Linked DNA regions of Homo sapiens: region 2 is linked to region 1. The links come from fine-mapping of genetic effects on gene expression. Tissue or cell type: whole blood. Region 1 holds a variant in brackets; the other region holds the start of a gene. All regions are shown on one strand. Distances are between the middles of the regions.

Region 1 (8,103 bases):
CACACTTTGCAAAAATGTTTAGAAAGTCACTGAACAAACAGCTACAGCCCACAGCAAAAGCAAACCCAGGGGTGGTGGGGAGGATAAAATAATTTCCAGTTACCCCATTATAATACTCAAAATGTCTGATTTCCTTTTTTGAGACGGAGTCTTCGCTCTGTCATCCAGACTGGAGGGCAGTGGTGCGATCTCGGCTCACTGCAACCTCCACCTCCCTGGTTCAAGCAATTCCCCTGCCTCAACCTCCTGAGTAGCTGGGATTATAGGCGCATGCTACCGTGTCTGACTGTTTTTGGATTTTTAGTAGAGATGGGATTTCACCATGTTGGCCAGACTGGTCCTGAACTTCTGACCTCAGGCAATCTGCCCACCTCGGCCTCCCAAAAGTGCTGGGATTACAGGCGTGAGGCACCACGCCTGGACTCTTTTTTTCTTTTTAATTTTACTTTTTCTTTTTTTGGGGAAAAGGGATTAGAGGTGTGAGTCACTGTGCCTGACTCCAATTTTCAAAAAAAAATTACAAACCATGCAGTGACATTAAGAGAGTACAGCCCATTCACAAAAGAAACAAATTGTCTTTAAGGAAGCACAGACATTGAAAGTACTAGACAAAGACTTTAAATCAGCTGTCTGAAATCTGCTCAAAAAGCTAAAAGAAACGATGAATAAAGAGTTAAAGGATACAAGGAGAACAATGTCTCAACAAATGCAGAACATCAATAAAGAAATAGAAAATATTATAGACAGGTGAGGGGCAGTGGCTCATGCCTGTAATTCCAGCACTTTGGGAGGCTGAGGTGGGCAGATCACCTGGGGCCAGGATTTGAAGACCAGCCTCAGCAACATGGCGAAACCCCCTCTCTACAAAAAATGCAAACAATCAGCCAAGTGTGGTGGCATGCGCCTGTAGTCCCAGCCACTTGGGAGGCTGAGGTGGGAGAATTGCCTGAGCATGAGAAGTCAAGGCTGCAGTGAGCCAAGATTGCACCACTGCACTCCAGCCTGGGTGACAGAGTGAGACCCTGTCTCAAAAAAAGAATTTATTATAGACAAACTAAAGCTTAGAGAAAAAAAGAAAGGAAAAAAATAGAAATTATTGAAAGGAATCAAAGTCTGAAGCTGAAAAGTATACAAAAATTAGCCAGGCATGGTGGCGGGCACCTGTAATCCCAGCTACTCGAGAGGCTGAGACAGGAGAATTGCTTGAACCCAGGAGACAGAGGTTGCAGTGAGCCAAGATCGCACCATTGCACTCCAGCCTGGGTGACAAGAACGAAACTCCATCTCAAAAAAAAAAAAAAAGAAAAGTATAGAAATGGAAATGAAAAATTCACCAGACTATTTCGAATTCATTAGAGCAGATGGAAGAGAGAGTCACTGAACACATGAAGACAGGTAGATGAAACTATCCTGCCTACAGTTCTTTTTTTTTTTTGGATGGAGTTTCACTCTTGTTGCCTAAGCTGGCAAGCTGGGGTGCAATGGCGTGATCTCGGCTCATTGAAACCTCTGCCTACCGGGTTCAAGCAATTCTCCTGCACTGTGCCAGGCCCGACTCAGGCTACTTTTTTATTTTTTTTTTGTAGAGATGGGATCTCACTGTGTTGCCAGACTGGTCTTGAACTCCTGGTCTCAAGCGATCCTCCTACCTCAGCCTCCCAAGGTGCTGGGATTACAGGCATGAGCCACCACACCCAGTCCACATACCATTTTAAAGTGTTACAATTCAGGCTGGGCACGGTGGCTCACGCTTATAATCCCAGCACTTTGGGAGGCCAAGGCGAGCAGATCACCTGAGGTCAGGAGTTCAAGACCAGTCTGGCCAACATGGTGAAACCCCAATCTCTACTAAAAATACAAAAGTAGCCGGGCATGGTGGTGCATGCCTGTAATCCCAGCTACTTGGGAGGCTGAGGCAGGATAATTGTACAAACAAACAGCCCACAACAATTCTCTAATGGTGAGGGAGTAAATAAGTGACCGATAATGCTGGAGGAAGAGGAAGTGAATGGGTCCCCAGTATAGGTTAGAATGAAAAAATCCCTACCAATGTAAATCAAATATAAAATAAACAAAAGAGTTCATGTATGTGTGCGGGAAGGAAAGTGATATTTGGGGGTTGGGAGGTGTCACTGAGGGTACCGAGTACATATAAACAACTCTTTAGTCACTCCCAAAGGTCTGGGATGAGCATTTTTTAACATTTGATACTCTACTAACTTACCTGGACTATGTTGACATGGAAATTCACCTCCCGTTATCCACAGCTCCTCTCCCTGCTCCAACTTAATGATGACGTTTGGCTTGGTGATATCATATCTTGTTAATGGGAAAAGAAGAAGGACTTGGGCAAGTTGCTCGGCTTCAGAATCTCTGAAGTACAAGATGTTGCCACCTCATAAGCTGCATAACAGAAATGCTCCATTTTTTACCTTATCAAAGATAGAACCTTTCAATGAAGAATAATATAAACACTGCAGCTAGTGCCCACAAGGAATTAAGTGGTGTTGTCACTTATTTCTTCAAACTCAAGCATAAAACCCCATTCAACTGAGAGCATTCAGAAAGCAAGCTATCCTCACCCAAGGAAACTAGATGGCTGTAGTTCTCCAACATCACATCCCCGTATGTTATCTTCTCATCAGGGTCCAGTTGCCGCCACTCCTCCTGGGTGAAATCCACAGCCACATCTTTGAATGACACTGGCCCCTGTAATGGCAACATGATCAGAATTGGGAGATATGGAAAAGGGATAGGGGGATAACATTTTACAAAGCTCACTGGTGAAGTTAACCATGAACATCGTATACCTTATTTTATGTTACAGATTATGGAAGGGAAATCATATTGGAAACACATATCCTTTGGGGTCCTTTATATATATACAAAAATAAAAACCCAAAACACCCACCTCGGCCTCCCAAAGTGCTGGGATTACAGCAATGAACCACTGCACCTGGCCAAAAAATTTAAAAATTTTAAAAATAAAATAAAAAATAAGGCCAGGCACGGTGGCTCATGCCTGTAATCCCAGCTCTTTGGGAGGCTGAGGCAGGCGGATCACGAGGTCAGGAGTTTGAGACCATCCTGGCTAACACGGTGAAACCCCATCTCAGTTATGTTATGGAGACTGGCTTATGCACAAATCTTTCTAATGGTTATATATAAAGCACTTGAAGTCTCTATTATTTTATAATAGGCAATACCTAGATAAATAATGAATTTAACTCAAAAGAGATGGGGTCAAATTGTCCCTCTTTGCAGA[C/T]GACATGATTGTATATCTAGAAAACCCCATTGTCTCAGCACAAAATCTCCTTAAGCTGATAAGCAACTTCAGCAAAGTCTCAGGATACAAAATCAACGTACAAAAATCACAAGCATTCTTATACACCAACAACAGACAAACAGAGAGCCAAATCATGAGTGAATTCCCATTCACAATTGCTTCAAAGAGAATAAAATACCTAGGAATCCAACTTACAAGGGATGTGAAGGACCTCTTCAAGGAGAACTACAAACCACTGCTCAAGGAAATAAAAGAGGATACAAACAAAATGGAAGAACATTCCATGCTCATGGGTAGGAAGAATCAATATGGTGAAAATGGCCATACTGCCCAAGGTAATTTACAGATTCAATGCCATCCCCATCAAGCTACCGATGCCTTTCTTCACAGAATTGGAAAAAACTACTTTAAAGTTCATATGGAACCAAAAAAGAGCCCGCATCGCCAAGTCAATCCTGAGCCAAAAGAACAAAGCTGGAGGCATCACACTACCTGACTTCAAACTATACTACAATGCTACAGTAACCAAAACAGCGTGGTACTGGTACCAAAACAGAGATATAGATCAATGGAACAGAACAGAGCCCTCAGAAATAACGCCGCATATCTACAACTATCTGATCTTTGACAAACCTGAGAAAAACAAGCAATGGGGAAAGGATTCCCTATTTAATAAATGGTGCTGGGAAAACTGGCTAGCCATATGTAGAAAGCTGAAACTGGATCCCTTCCTTACACCTTATACAAAAATCAATTCAAGATGGATTAAAGACTTAAACGTTAGACCTAAAACCATAAAAACCCTAGAAGAAAACCTAGGCTTTACCATTCAGGACATAGGCATGGGCAAGGACTTCATGTCTAAAACACCAAAAGCAATGGCAACAAAAGCCAAAATTGACAAATGGGATCTAATTAAACTAAAGAGCTTCTGCACAGCAAAAGAAACTACCATCAGAGTGAACAGGCAACCTACAAAATGGGAGAAAATTTTTGCAACCTACTCATCTGACAAAGGGCTAATATCCAGAATCTACAATGAACTCAAACAAATTTACAAGAGAAAAACAAACAACCCCATCAAAAAGCGGGCGAAGGACATGAACAGACACTTCTCAAAAGAAGACATTTATGCAGCCAAAAAACACATGAAAAAATGCTCGTCATCACTGGCCATCAGAGAAATGCAAATCAAAACCACAATGAGATACCATCTCACACCAGTTAGAATGGCAATCATTAAAAAGTCAGGAAACAACAGGTGCTGGAGAGGATGTGGAGAAATAGGAACACTTTTACATTGTTGGTGGGACTGTAAACTAGTTCAACCATTGTGGAAGTCAGTGCGGCGATTCCTCAGGGATCTAGAACTGGAAATACCATTTGACCCAGCCATCCCATTACTGGGTATATACCCAAAGGACTAGAAATCATGCTGCTATAAAGACACATGCACACGTATGTTTATTGCGGCATTATTCACAATAGCAAGGACTTGGAACCAACCCAAATGTCCAACAATGATAGACTGGATTAAGAAAATGTGGCACATATACACCATGGAATACTATGCAGCAATAAAAAAGGATGAGTTCATGTCCTTTGTAGGGACATGGATGAAATTGGAAAACATCATTCTCAGTAAACTATCGCAAGAACAAAAAACCAAACAATGCATATTCTCACTCATAGGTGGGAATTGAACAGTGAGATCACATGGACACAAGAAGGGGAATATCACACTCTGGGGACTGTTGTGGGGTGGGGGGAGGGGGGAGGGATAGCATTGGGAGATATACCTAATGCTAGATGACGAGTTAGTGGGTGCAGTGCACCAGCATGGCACATGTATACATATGTAACTAACCTGCACAATGTGCACATGTACCCTAAAACTTAAAGTATAATAATAAAAAAAAAAGAATCTTCAAACCTAATGCCTAGAACATTTTATCAACATTAAACTTCTATTTAAAGTTTATTCTTAGCTATCTATAAGAAACGTTTACAGGAAGCAGAAAAGATAAGCTCTTTCTAAGTTAAAAGAGTATATTTGCAAATTGAACTTTCAAAAATTGATAAAGCAGTACACACATTTATTTTTAGAAATTGAAGCTGCAAAGCTAAGCAATTTCCTACTATGACATGTGTGTTGGACAGTGTAGGGCATAGCAATGATTAGTGATTTTCAGCAGCCTTTCTTGAATAGGCATTGAAAATAGCTAAACAAAAAAAGAGAAGTGAGCTGAATTCTTGGAGTGAATATTTTGGAGTGAATTATAAAACAGAGTTCTTGCAATAATGCATGTAAATTAAAAATAGGTTAGCAAAGCATGAGTAAAAATAGTCAATTTTCAAATACTTTTCACAGCTCTCCGAGTCTGACATATTTCTCTGGCTAAAAGGGAAGAAACATATCGGCACTCATGTTGGGAAGACCTTAGAACAGCAAAGTACTAAAACTTGCCAAACCAACTTCAAGTGGCTTTCTTGTTAGTGCAATACACACTGCACTGAGTTCCTGAGCATAATATTTCCACCCTTTCCCATGGAGTCTGCTTAAATTTGAAGATTTTTTTCTGGTAGGTGTATTGTCCTTAATTTTGGAGGAAGTTTTAAAAAGGTGGATTAATGTTATATATGCTTCTGAGAATATTATGCAACCATGAAGCTTTGCACTTCAACATAAATGAATCCCAAAAAGAGCCAGATGAACTGTTGGCTGGGAGGCAGAGCCTTAGGATGTTTCAAATTCATTGTGACTTCACATAAAGGTACTCTCTGGAGTATGAAAGTCAATTTTACAGGTGTAAAATAAAGGAAAAGAAGACAGTCTGAAAGTCAAATGAAATTCCAGGACCACCTGTATTTCAGTGAGGTAAGTGTTATAATAAAGTGTTATGGGTAGATACATAAAAGACAACTAATTTAGAGTAAAAATAAATTGGGGGACTATTAAGAGACTGTCTTAACGTGGAATGAATTTTACAGAGTCTTTATGGTAACATTTGTAGATAAAAATTAGGTTAGTAAAGCATAAGTAAAAATAGTTAATTTTCAAATATTTATCACAGAGCTCTCTAGTTTACATTTAATAATATATTCTGTTGCATTGGATTGATATGCACAGGATTATTTTGTCTCCACGTAGGGGTAGGAAAGAAAACAAATTTGTTTTGCAATAGCCCAGTTTAATAGAGGTGGTACAAACTTTAGGAAGTATTTTAATTTTAGTTAAATTGATCCAGGTTAATTTGGAGACAGTTATGAAGCACATACAAATTACAAATCATAAAATGGTAATTGTATTTGCAGTTGTAAGAACCCAAAAGATTTAAGCTCCATTAGCTAAGAATAAAATGCTGATAACCATGAGTCGCAGCCATGGTTTGGATGTACTCAGAAAAGTTAACTACGTAAAAAATGTCACCTTCTTATTCAGCATATTAGCTCCCTGGGTGTTTTCAAGACATATCTGCTGGCTTTTCTTTTAAAATTACACTTCCCTTAGCTACGCTGTGATATTACAGCTATGGAAGAGTGAGCTGGCTTCACCCTGCCTCATGCATCATCAGCCGAACTGTCAGTAAAGTGCTAATTGCAGAAACTTTATTACTTGAGGTGATACTGAACCAGAGAGAACACAGCTTGATTTTTCATAATCTAAACTTTGCAATGTGAGCAATTAGAAAAAAAAAAACTTTCCTTTTTGTTTCAATTTCTAAGCTAAGCAAAATTAAAATGGATGTCATTGACAGTAAAATAGAAGCTTAAAAATGTTGTCCTTCTAGGTGACTTTATAACTTAGTATAAAATCCCATTAACCCCTTTTTATAAAAATGCATAATTTGAAGCTTAACAGCACTTGCAATTCTATGACACATTTGGCTACCTGTAATTGGTGAAAGACAGAACTTTATTTTCTGCTTCTGTCATTTTTGTATTTTTTGTAGAGGAAATATACTTCAAAGATATGCTTTATATATACTCTCTAAATTTATATATTTCCTGTGGGATCTGAAATATTTAAAGCACCTTTAAACACTATTTCAGAAAATGGGTTTGCAGGTAGCACAAGGAATTTCCTCTAGAAATATAAAAATAGATGAGGATGGTTTAATGGAAAATTTATTGGAATAGACGCATGGAATGTTGGGACCATTTTTAGGGCAAATTCCATGGGGAGTGATTAGAAAAATCAGCAAATATAATTCCATGTGAAATCCTTGGGGAAATTCAGTATACAATAAAACACATGAGTGGGATATCTAAATCAGACCTAAGGGTCTAAAAAGAAAACAAACCTATGATAGCCTCTTAAGGAGGAGAAATAATTAGGGACAAGATGGTAGAAAAGGCAAAGAAAGGAAAAATAGTTTTCTCAGTGTAGGAAACAATGTACAACATCCTTGGGATTATTTCTCCTTTTTATGGTTGTAATGTAGAAAGACTGAAAGTCAATAGGAGTAAATTCTACTGATTAAGTGGGTGGTGTGGATTAGAAGGACACTGGCCTATAAAGTTAACTGTGCAAAATCTTGAAAGGGCTTGCGAGCCACGCTAGAGAATTTCAAATTGATCAGAAGGGCAATAGGAAATCATATAGGGTTTTGCATAGGAATTTAACATGAGCAGATTTGTATTTTTTAGGGGTCAGTCTTATTGACATCTGGAGAGTTGCCTGGAGAGAGACAAGGCTGAAAATAGGGAAACCATTAAAAAAGCTATTACAGCAATCCACATAGGCTATGATCTAAGGCACAGCTGGGGTGGTAGCAGAAGGAACAGATGAATTTGAAAGATACTTAGGAGATAAA
Region 2 (8,103 bases), 140 kb before region 1:
GCGGTCGGGAGGCTGAGGCGGGAGGATCGCTTGAGCCCAGGAGCTCAAGGCTGCAGTGAGCTATGATTGCACCACTGCACTCCAGCCTGGGCAACAGAGCAAGATCCCATCTGTAAAATCATAATAAAAAGAGACAGATTGAATGCTTGGCTAGGTAGGTGGAATCCAGGCCAGGGTTGATCTGACACCATTCTCAAAGTTCTAATTCTTCCTCCTCTTGGAAGGAGGATCAGATATCCCCAGTCAAGATCTTGCTGCTTGTCCGGGAGGAGTAGTTTGGGCCTGGGACCAGAGGGGGACGGTAGGGCCACCTCATTCATGGCTGTGGAAAGCAGAGGCACTTTGGCCTTGGTGAGCCCCTTTCTCTGTTAAACCTATTTTACAACATGTTGGTATAAAGATGAATATATTAATGTATACTAGAGGATTTTCTCTCACCTAAAGGTTCATTTTTTTCCCTTCTGATTTTAAAAGAAATTAAAAATGTATGTCAGCTCTTATAGTGTGGGCCCAGGGCACTGTGCCTAATGGTAAGTTGGTCCAGGGTAAAAAGGGTAGTGAGGTCTCTCTAGAAGACCCCAGTGTTGGCCGGGTACAGTGGCTCAGGCCTGTCATCCCAGCACTTTGGGAGGCTGAGGCGGGAGGATCACAAGGTCAGGAGTTCGAGACCAGCCTGGCCAACGTGGTGAAACCCCCTCTACTAAAAATACAAAAATTAGCTGGGCATGGTGGTGTGCACCTACAATTCCAGCTAACTTGGGAGGCTGAGGCAGGAGAATTGCTTGAACCCGGAAGGCAGAGGTTGCAGTGAGCCGAGATCACGCCACTGTACTCCAGCCTGGCGACAGAGCAAGACTCCGTCTCAAAAAATATATATAAAAACAAAACCATGAGATGCCACACTACACCCATTACGATGGCTATACTAAAACAAAAAGCAGTGTTGGAGAGGATGTCGAGAAATGGGACCCTCATCCACTGCTACTGGGAATGTAAAATGCAGCCACTTTGGCAAACAGAACCTCAGAAAGCAGCATTAGCATATGACCACAGTTCCACTCCTAGGTACATTCTCAAGAGAATTGAAAATGTGCCCACAGAAGCCTGCGCACGGATGCTCATGGCAGCATTATTTACAGTAGCCCCACAGTGGAAAAAAACAAATTCTGCATCCACTGATGAATGAAAGTGTGATACGTTCACAGGATGGAATATTACTCAACTGTGAAAAGGAATGAAGCAATCACAGTCGAGGAGGAACCTTGAAAAAGTAACAAAAGCCAGACACAAAAGGTCACATGTTGTGTGACTGCATCCTATGAAATGTCCATTACGGGCAAAACCATGGAAACAAGAAGTAGCTTAGTCGTCACTGGGGACGGGAGAATGGAGAGTTACCGTTTAATGGGTGTAGTGTTTCGTTTTGGGGAAGTAAGAAGGTTCTGGAATTGGTGATGGTTGCACAACCTTGTTGATATACTAAAAGCTGTTGGGCGCTGTGGCTCATGCCTGTAATCTGGGCACTTTGGGAGGCTGAGGCAGGAGGATCCCTTGAGCCAGGAGTTCAAGACCAGGCTGGGCAACACAGTGAGACCCTGTCTCTACAAGAAATATATTTTTATTATATTTTTTTTGAGACAGAGTCTCACTCTGTCATCCACGCTGTAGTGCGGTGGTGCGATCTCAGCTCACTGCAACCTCCGCCTCCCGGGTTCAAGTCATTCTCCTGCCTCAGCCTCCCGAGTACTTGGGATTACAAGCACGTTCCACCACACCCGGCTAATTTTTGTAATTTTAGTCGAGACAGGGTTTCACCATGTTCGCCAGGCTGGTCTCGAACTCATGACCTCAAGTGACCTGCCCACCTCGGCCTCCCAAAGTGCTGGGATTACCGCCGTAAGTCACTACACCCAGCCTCAAAAACTATATTTTTAAAAATTAGCAGCTGGGCGCAGTGGCTCATGCCTGTAATCCCAGCACTTTGGGAGGCCAAGGCAGGTAGATCGCGAGGTCAGGCGTTCGAGACCAGCCTGGCCAAGTTGGTGAAACCTCATCTCTACTAAAAATACAAAAATTAGCTGGGCATGGTGGTAGGTGCCTGTAGTCCCAGCTACTAGGGAGGCTGAGGCAGAAGAATTGCTTGAACCCAGGAGGTGGAGGTTGCAGTGAGCAGAGATCACGCCATTGCACTCCAGCCTGGGCGACAGGGTGAGACTCCATGTCTCAAAAAAAAAAAAAAATAGCCAGGCACGGTGGCTCACGCCTGTAATCCCAATACTTTAGGAGGCCAAGGCAGGAGATTTGCTTGATCCTCCCAGGAGTTAGAGATCAGCCTGGGCAACATAGCAAGATCCTGTTTCTATAAAAAATACATTTTTAAAAATTGGCCAGCCGGGCGCAGTGGCTCACACCTGCAATCCCAGCGCTTTGGGAGGCTGAGGTGGGTGGATCACCTGAGGTCAGGAGTTCGAGACCAGCCTCACCAACGTGGAGAAACCCTATCTCTACTAAAAATACAAAATTAGACAGGTGTGGTGGCACATGCCTGTAATCCCAGCTACTCAGGAGGCTGAGGCAGGAGAATCACTTGAACCCAGGAGGTGGAGGTTGCGGTGAGCCAAGATCGAGCCATTGTACTCCAGCCTGGGCAACAAGAGTGAAAACTCCGTTTCAAAAAAAACAAAAAAAAAATTGGCGGGGGTGCCAGGCACGGTGGCACATGCCTGTAATCCCAGCACTTTGGGAGGCCAAGGCGGGTGGATCACTTGAGATCAGGAATTTGAGACCAGCCAAGCCAACATGGTGAAACCCCGTCCCTACTAAAAATACAAAAATTAGCTGGCCGTGGGGCACATGCCTGTAATCCCAGCTACTTGGGAGGCTGAGGCAGGAGAATCGCTTGAACCCAGGAGGCGGAGGTTGCAGTGAGCCCAGATCACGCCACTGCACTCCAGCCTGGACAACAAAGGAGACTCCATCTTAAAAAAAAATTAATTAAATAAATTTTAAAAATTAGCCGGAGCATGGTGTTGTGTGCCTGTGGTTCCAGCTACTGGGAAGGCTGAGGTGGGAGGATTAACTGAACCTGGGAGTTTGAGGCTCCAGTTAGCTGTGAACTGACCTCCCTGGGTGACATATATATATTTAAGCCACTGAGCTGTGAAGGTTGTGAAGGTATGTGAGTTATGTCTTGAAAAATACACACATAGTGAGCGCCAAATCCCGGGAGTAGTGTTTAAGTGGCGGGCTTGTCAGCTGTCAAGGGCTCTGCAGCCCTTTCTCTGAATCCAAGTTCTTCTTCCTGTGGACAGGGAACCCAGGCTGCGAACTGGGAGGATGTGGCCTCGTGGGGGGCAGGGCCAGCGTGCTGTGATGGGGATGGGGCTGGGCAGGTTGGGGCTGCCTGCTACTCCCCACTCCTGACTCTGGGTGGGGACAGAAGGCAGAGGGAGGCTCCTGGCACCTGGGGCACAGGAATCTCAGGCATGTGGTCCTGAGCCTGTTTCCAAAAGCCAGACCCTCCTCCCCAGGGCGGAGAGACTGGGAGGGGCCCCAATCCAGGCTCCGGGATGGCCTGGCTGGCATCTGGGGTTCCAGTGGCCCCTCTCCCTTGGCCCTGGCAGTGGGGCTGGATACTGGCCTGCCTCCCACCAGAGTCCCCCCAGCTCCTCCCTGCTGTGGGCTGGCCTGGGAGGAAGGGGGTGGGGTGCACTTACATTTGCAGGTCTTTCCAGCCCCTGGGGCAGCCTGATTAACCAGCTTCTCCAGGGCCAAGCTGTTGGGGGTGAGGTGCAGCCCGAAGCAGCCAGACCAGCCCCTGAGCCTCCCGGGTGCTGGCAGCTGTCATGGGGCTACCCTGGGGGCAGCCTCACCTAGGGCTGCAGATGCTCCTCCTGGCGTTGAACTGTCTCCGGCCCAGCCTGAGCCTGGGTGAGTGGGGGTCCTGGATGGACGCGTCCAGCCAGACCCAAGGGGCTGGGGGCCCTGCTGGAGTGATTGGACCCTGGGCGCCCGCCCCCCTCCGATTGGGAGAGGCAGCCCCAGGGACCCCCACGCCCGTCTCCGTGGCTCACCTTTTGTCCCCCGTGGCCACAGAGCTGGTGCCCTACACACCACAGATAACAGCTTGGGACCTGGAAGGGAAGGTCACAGCCACCACCTTCTCCCTGGAGCAGCCGCGCTGTGTCTTCGATGGGCTTGCCAGCGCCAGCGATACCGTCTGGCTCGTGGTGGCCTTCAGCAATGGTACGGGGACTGCTGTGGGGCCTGGGTGAGGGTGACGGCTGAGGAGAGTGGTGGGCCCTAGGAGCCCCTCACCAGCAAGCGCCTTCAATGATTGAGCCCCTGTGGGGGCCTTTGGGAGAGTAGGTGTGGATGAATTGGGCTTTATCTAAAGGGGTAATATGTGTATTGAAAAATACACACGTAGTGAACACCAAATCCCGGGAGTAGTGCTAGTGGTGGGTTTGTCAGCTGTCAAGGGCTCTGCAACCCTTTCTCTGAATCCAAGTAGTTCTTCCTTTGGACAGGGAACCGAGGCTGCGACCTGGGAGGATGTGGCCTCCTGTGGGGCAGGGCCGGTGCACTGCAATGGGGCTGGGGCTGGGGCTGGGCAGGTTGGGACTGCCCGCTGCTCCCCACTCCTGGCTCTGGGTGGGGACAAAAGGCCAGAGGGAAGCTCCCCTTCAGGGGTAACAAAGTCGACTGGGTCTGGACTATCTCTGGGGGCCCTGAGGGAGGAGGTGGCATGGGGGGTCAGGGCTGGAGACTGGGCGAACACAGAACCCCCACTCATAAGGACAAAGCTGCTTTCTCCCCTCCCACCTCCATCTGTTCTCTCCTCCTGCAGCCTCCAGGGGCTTCCAGAACCCGGAGACACTGGCTGACATTCCGGCCTCCCCACAGCTGCTGACCGATGGCCACTACATGACGCTGCCCCTGTCTCCGGACCAGCTGCCCTGTGGCGACCCCATGGCGGGCAGCGGAGGCGCCCCCGTGCTGCGGGTGGGCCATGACCACGGCTGCCACCAGCAGCCCTTCTGCAACGCGCCCCTCCCTGGCCCTGGACCCTATCGGTGGGTGGTCCCCACCGGAGCCCTGGGACTGGGGCTGTGCTTGGGGCGGACGCATTGCTGGGACCAGGGATGCTCTCTCTAGCATCTTTCCAGGGAGGGGTCCCCGGCCCCGGTCCTCCCCTTTGCAAGCCCGGGCTCCTTCCACTGTAGAGTCAGCAACAGTGCTCACCCCCGCTGGGGCCGGGCAAGGCCCAGGAGGAGCAGGTGGGCACCTTGGGGAGGCGGGATCTTAGTCAAGGTGGGAGGGGGCAGCTTCCCCAAAGTCTAGGCCCCTGTCCCCCACCACGGGCAGATCTGGCAGGAAACTCGGGGGCCGAGTTCAGACCCAGTCTCGTCGGTATTAGGCAGGGAGCAGGAGAGGTGGCTCCTACCCGCTCTTACAGATGAGGAAACTGAGGCACAGGAGGTCAAGTGGCCTGCCAACATCGGGGTGGAGCCGGGATGGGGAAGCAGGCAGTGTGTCCAGGTCAGGACTGTCCGGACACAGGAGGAGGCGGGGTGACCTCAGGAAGACCAGGCCCAGGGGAAGCCGGGAAGGCAGGGCGTGGTGAGGCTGGAACAGCACCCCGCTCCGCCCAGCCCCCTTCTGCCCTCTCACCCACTCTCCAGGTCCACCCTCTGCCCTCCCCGCTGCCTCACCCTGGCTCAGCCTTCCAGCTCCATGCCCCGCCCCATCCCCCGCAGCCACTCTTTTCAATGCCAACCTGCCAGGTCCTTCCCCGCTTCCCAGGCCTTGCAGAGCTCCCAGCCCTGCAAAGAGACAAACCGAGGCCCTCTGCGGGGCTCCTGGTGCCCTGGGTCCTCAGGCTGCTGGTGATTGAGCCCCCTGCCCCCGGCTACTGCTGCCCCTCTGGGAGGCCTGTGACCCCTGCCCCATGTGCCCTGCTAAGCCACCTTCACCTGCTCTTTTGGCTTGTGACATTTAGGAACCAGGGCCCCTAAACCAGCATCCCCGGCCCAGGTCTGGTGTCTGGAGAGCAATTGCTCGGGGGGATGAGGGGTGGTGGCACAGGCCAAGTGGCTGGAGACATCTCAGGGGATTCTCAGAGCAGGGCCAGGCCATGGGCTGCTGCTCTTGACGGGCACCCCCACTCCACATCCATGGGAGGGCCCCAGAGGAGCTGCCTGGGGCTTGGCCCTGCCCAGGGTGGTCCCAGCCTCTGAAGCTCTCCCCTCCTCCCCCACCACCTCCCATCCCCAGGGTGAAGTTCCTCCTGATGGACACCAGGGGCTCACCCAGGGCTGAGACCAAGTGGTCAGACCCCATCACTCTCCACCAAGGTAGCGCTGGGCAGGAGGGGCGCTGCCCCCAGTGGACTCACGATCTCTCTGGGCCGCCTCTGCTGAGCTGGCCACACCCCTGCTCCCACAGGGCTGGGGGCCTGGAGGCCATGTCCAAGTCGGGCCCAGCCCCCAACAGAACCTCATGCTGGGGGAGTGGGGCACCCAGCCAGCCCCCTCGGCAGGGGCACCATCTCGGCCCATCCGCAAGCGTTTGCCACATTGTGGGCACAGACAGCCTCCCCCCTCCTGTAGGGAGTCAGCCTGTGTCAGCCCCTGCTGGGAGGGAGGAAGAGGGTGTGGAGGAGGTCAGGGTCAGGGTCGGGGCTGGCTGGGGAGGCAGCCAGCTTGAGTTCTGAGCAGACCCCAAGGGGCAAGCGTGAATGTACCAAGCCCAGAAGTTTCGAGTGCCACGGCCCAGGTGTCGGGGGTGGGGGTCTCCTGGGAGACGGCTTCAGAGGTCAGGGGGTGTGGGGTGGAAGTCTTGTCATCTGAAGGCCTTGACTGCTGGGCTCCAGGGAGCAGGGCAGTGGATGAGCACGTGGGTGGGAGCAGCCTAGAAGGTAGGAGCAGGGCGGAGGCTGTGGTCCAGGCTGGCAGAGAACAGATGCTGTGCCGTCCCGAGGAAGAGGGACGGGGGGTGGGATCAGGGGGGCGCCTGGGGATATGAGACAGCCAGACCTTGAAGCTAGGCCAGCGTGGGTGGGGAGGGAGCGAGGGAGGAGATGACAGCCAGCCCTGGGGTCGAGGGGCAGCCCCTCTGAGCAGCTGGTGTGTGTGCAGGGAAGACCCCCGGATCCATCGACACCTGGCCAGGGCGGCGAAGTGGCAGCATGATCGTCATTACCTCCATCCTCTCTTCTCTGGCCGGCCTCCTACTCTTGGCCTTCTTGGCAGCCTCTACCATGCGCTTGTGAGTGGGGACACCCCCTCGGGCCCCTCTCCCACCCAGAACCCCTCTGTTGAATTGGTCCCAGTGTCTGGAAGCCCTCCAGGCATGCCATGGGGTTTATTTTATTTTTGGTAGAGACAGGGACTTGCTATGTTGCCCAGGCTGGTCTGGAACTGCTGGGCTCAAGCGATCCTCCCGTCTCGGCCTCCCAAAGTATTAGGATTACAGGTGTGAGCCACCTTGCCGAGCCCCGTGGTTTCGAGCTGGGCAGCGCCCCTCCCAGGGCCTGTGCAGGGAACTCCCACCCTGAGTATCTCGCACCTCAGGGGTCATTGATGGGGCCAGCAGCCCCTCTGAGGACAGGTTCGGGAGGTCCCGCCTCACTCGGGCCCTGTCTTTTCAGTGTGTCCTCAGCCAAGGCCCTTCTCCTCCCGGGCCTCACCTGCTGTCTGTGGATCCTCTGGTGGTTTAGTAAGCTGACGCCAGGGTAGTCAGGGTGGCCACCTGGAGAGGTGGTCCTCCAATTGGTTCTAGAAGGGAGGAAGGAGGGATCAGAGACTGCAGGTGAGGCCGGGTGCAGTGGCACATGCCTGTAATCCTAGCACTTTGGGAGGCCGAGGTGGGAGGATCACTGGAGGCCAAAAGTTCAAGACCAGCCTGAGCAACATGGTGAAACCCCATCTCCACTAAAAATGCAAAAATTGTCCGGGTGTGGTGGCAGGCACCTGTAATCCCAGCTACTCGGGAGGCTGAGGCAGGAGAATCGTTTGAACCCGGGTGGCGAAGGTTACAGTGAGCTTAGATCACACCACCGCACTCCAGCCTGGGTGACAGAGCCAGACTCCATCTCAAAAA

The links. PIP is the estimated chance that this variant, and not a neighbour inherited with it, causes the effect.
Region 2: UPK3B starts here. The variant in region 1 is fine-mapped to the expression of UPK3B in whole blood (GTEx, PIP 0.94).

Annotation. Positions count from the first base shown.
Region 1 is chr7:76,648,174-76,656,276 of GRCh38, forward strand. No RefSeq gene overlaps it. Among named protein-coding and RNA genes, the nearest start is that of POMZP3, 25 kb to the left of the region's middle. The variant C/T (reference allele first, on the strand shown) is at 3,266.
Region 2 is chr7:76,506,808-76,514,910 of GRCh38, forward strand. It overlaps UPK3B (uroplakin 3B), which reads left to right and starts at 3,745. Exons shown (of 6, transcript NM_001347684.2): 1 at 3,745-3,930; 2 at 4,096-4,245; 3 at 4,850-5,075; 4 at 6,277-6,356; 5 at 7,140-7,269. The coding sequence starts at 3,846. LOC124901675 (a long non-coding RNA gene) reads right to left here and starts at 3,926. Exons shown (of 2, transcript XR_007060388.1): 1 at 3,717-3,926; 2 at 1,374-3,301. RefSeq lists a silencer at 2,127-2,332 and enhancers at 3,210-3,782, 3,783-4,355, 5,109-5,760, 5,761-6,412, 6,413-7,062.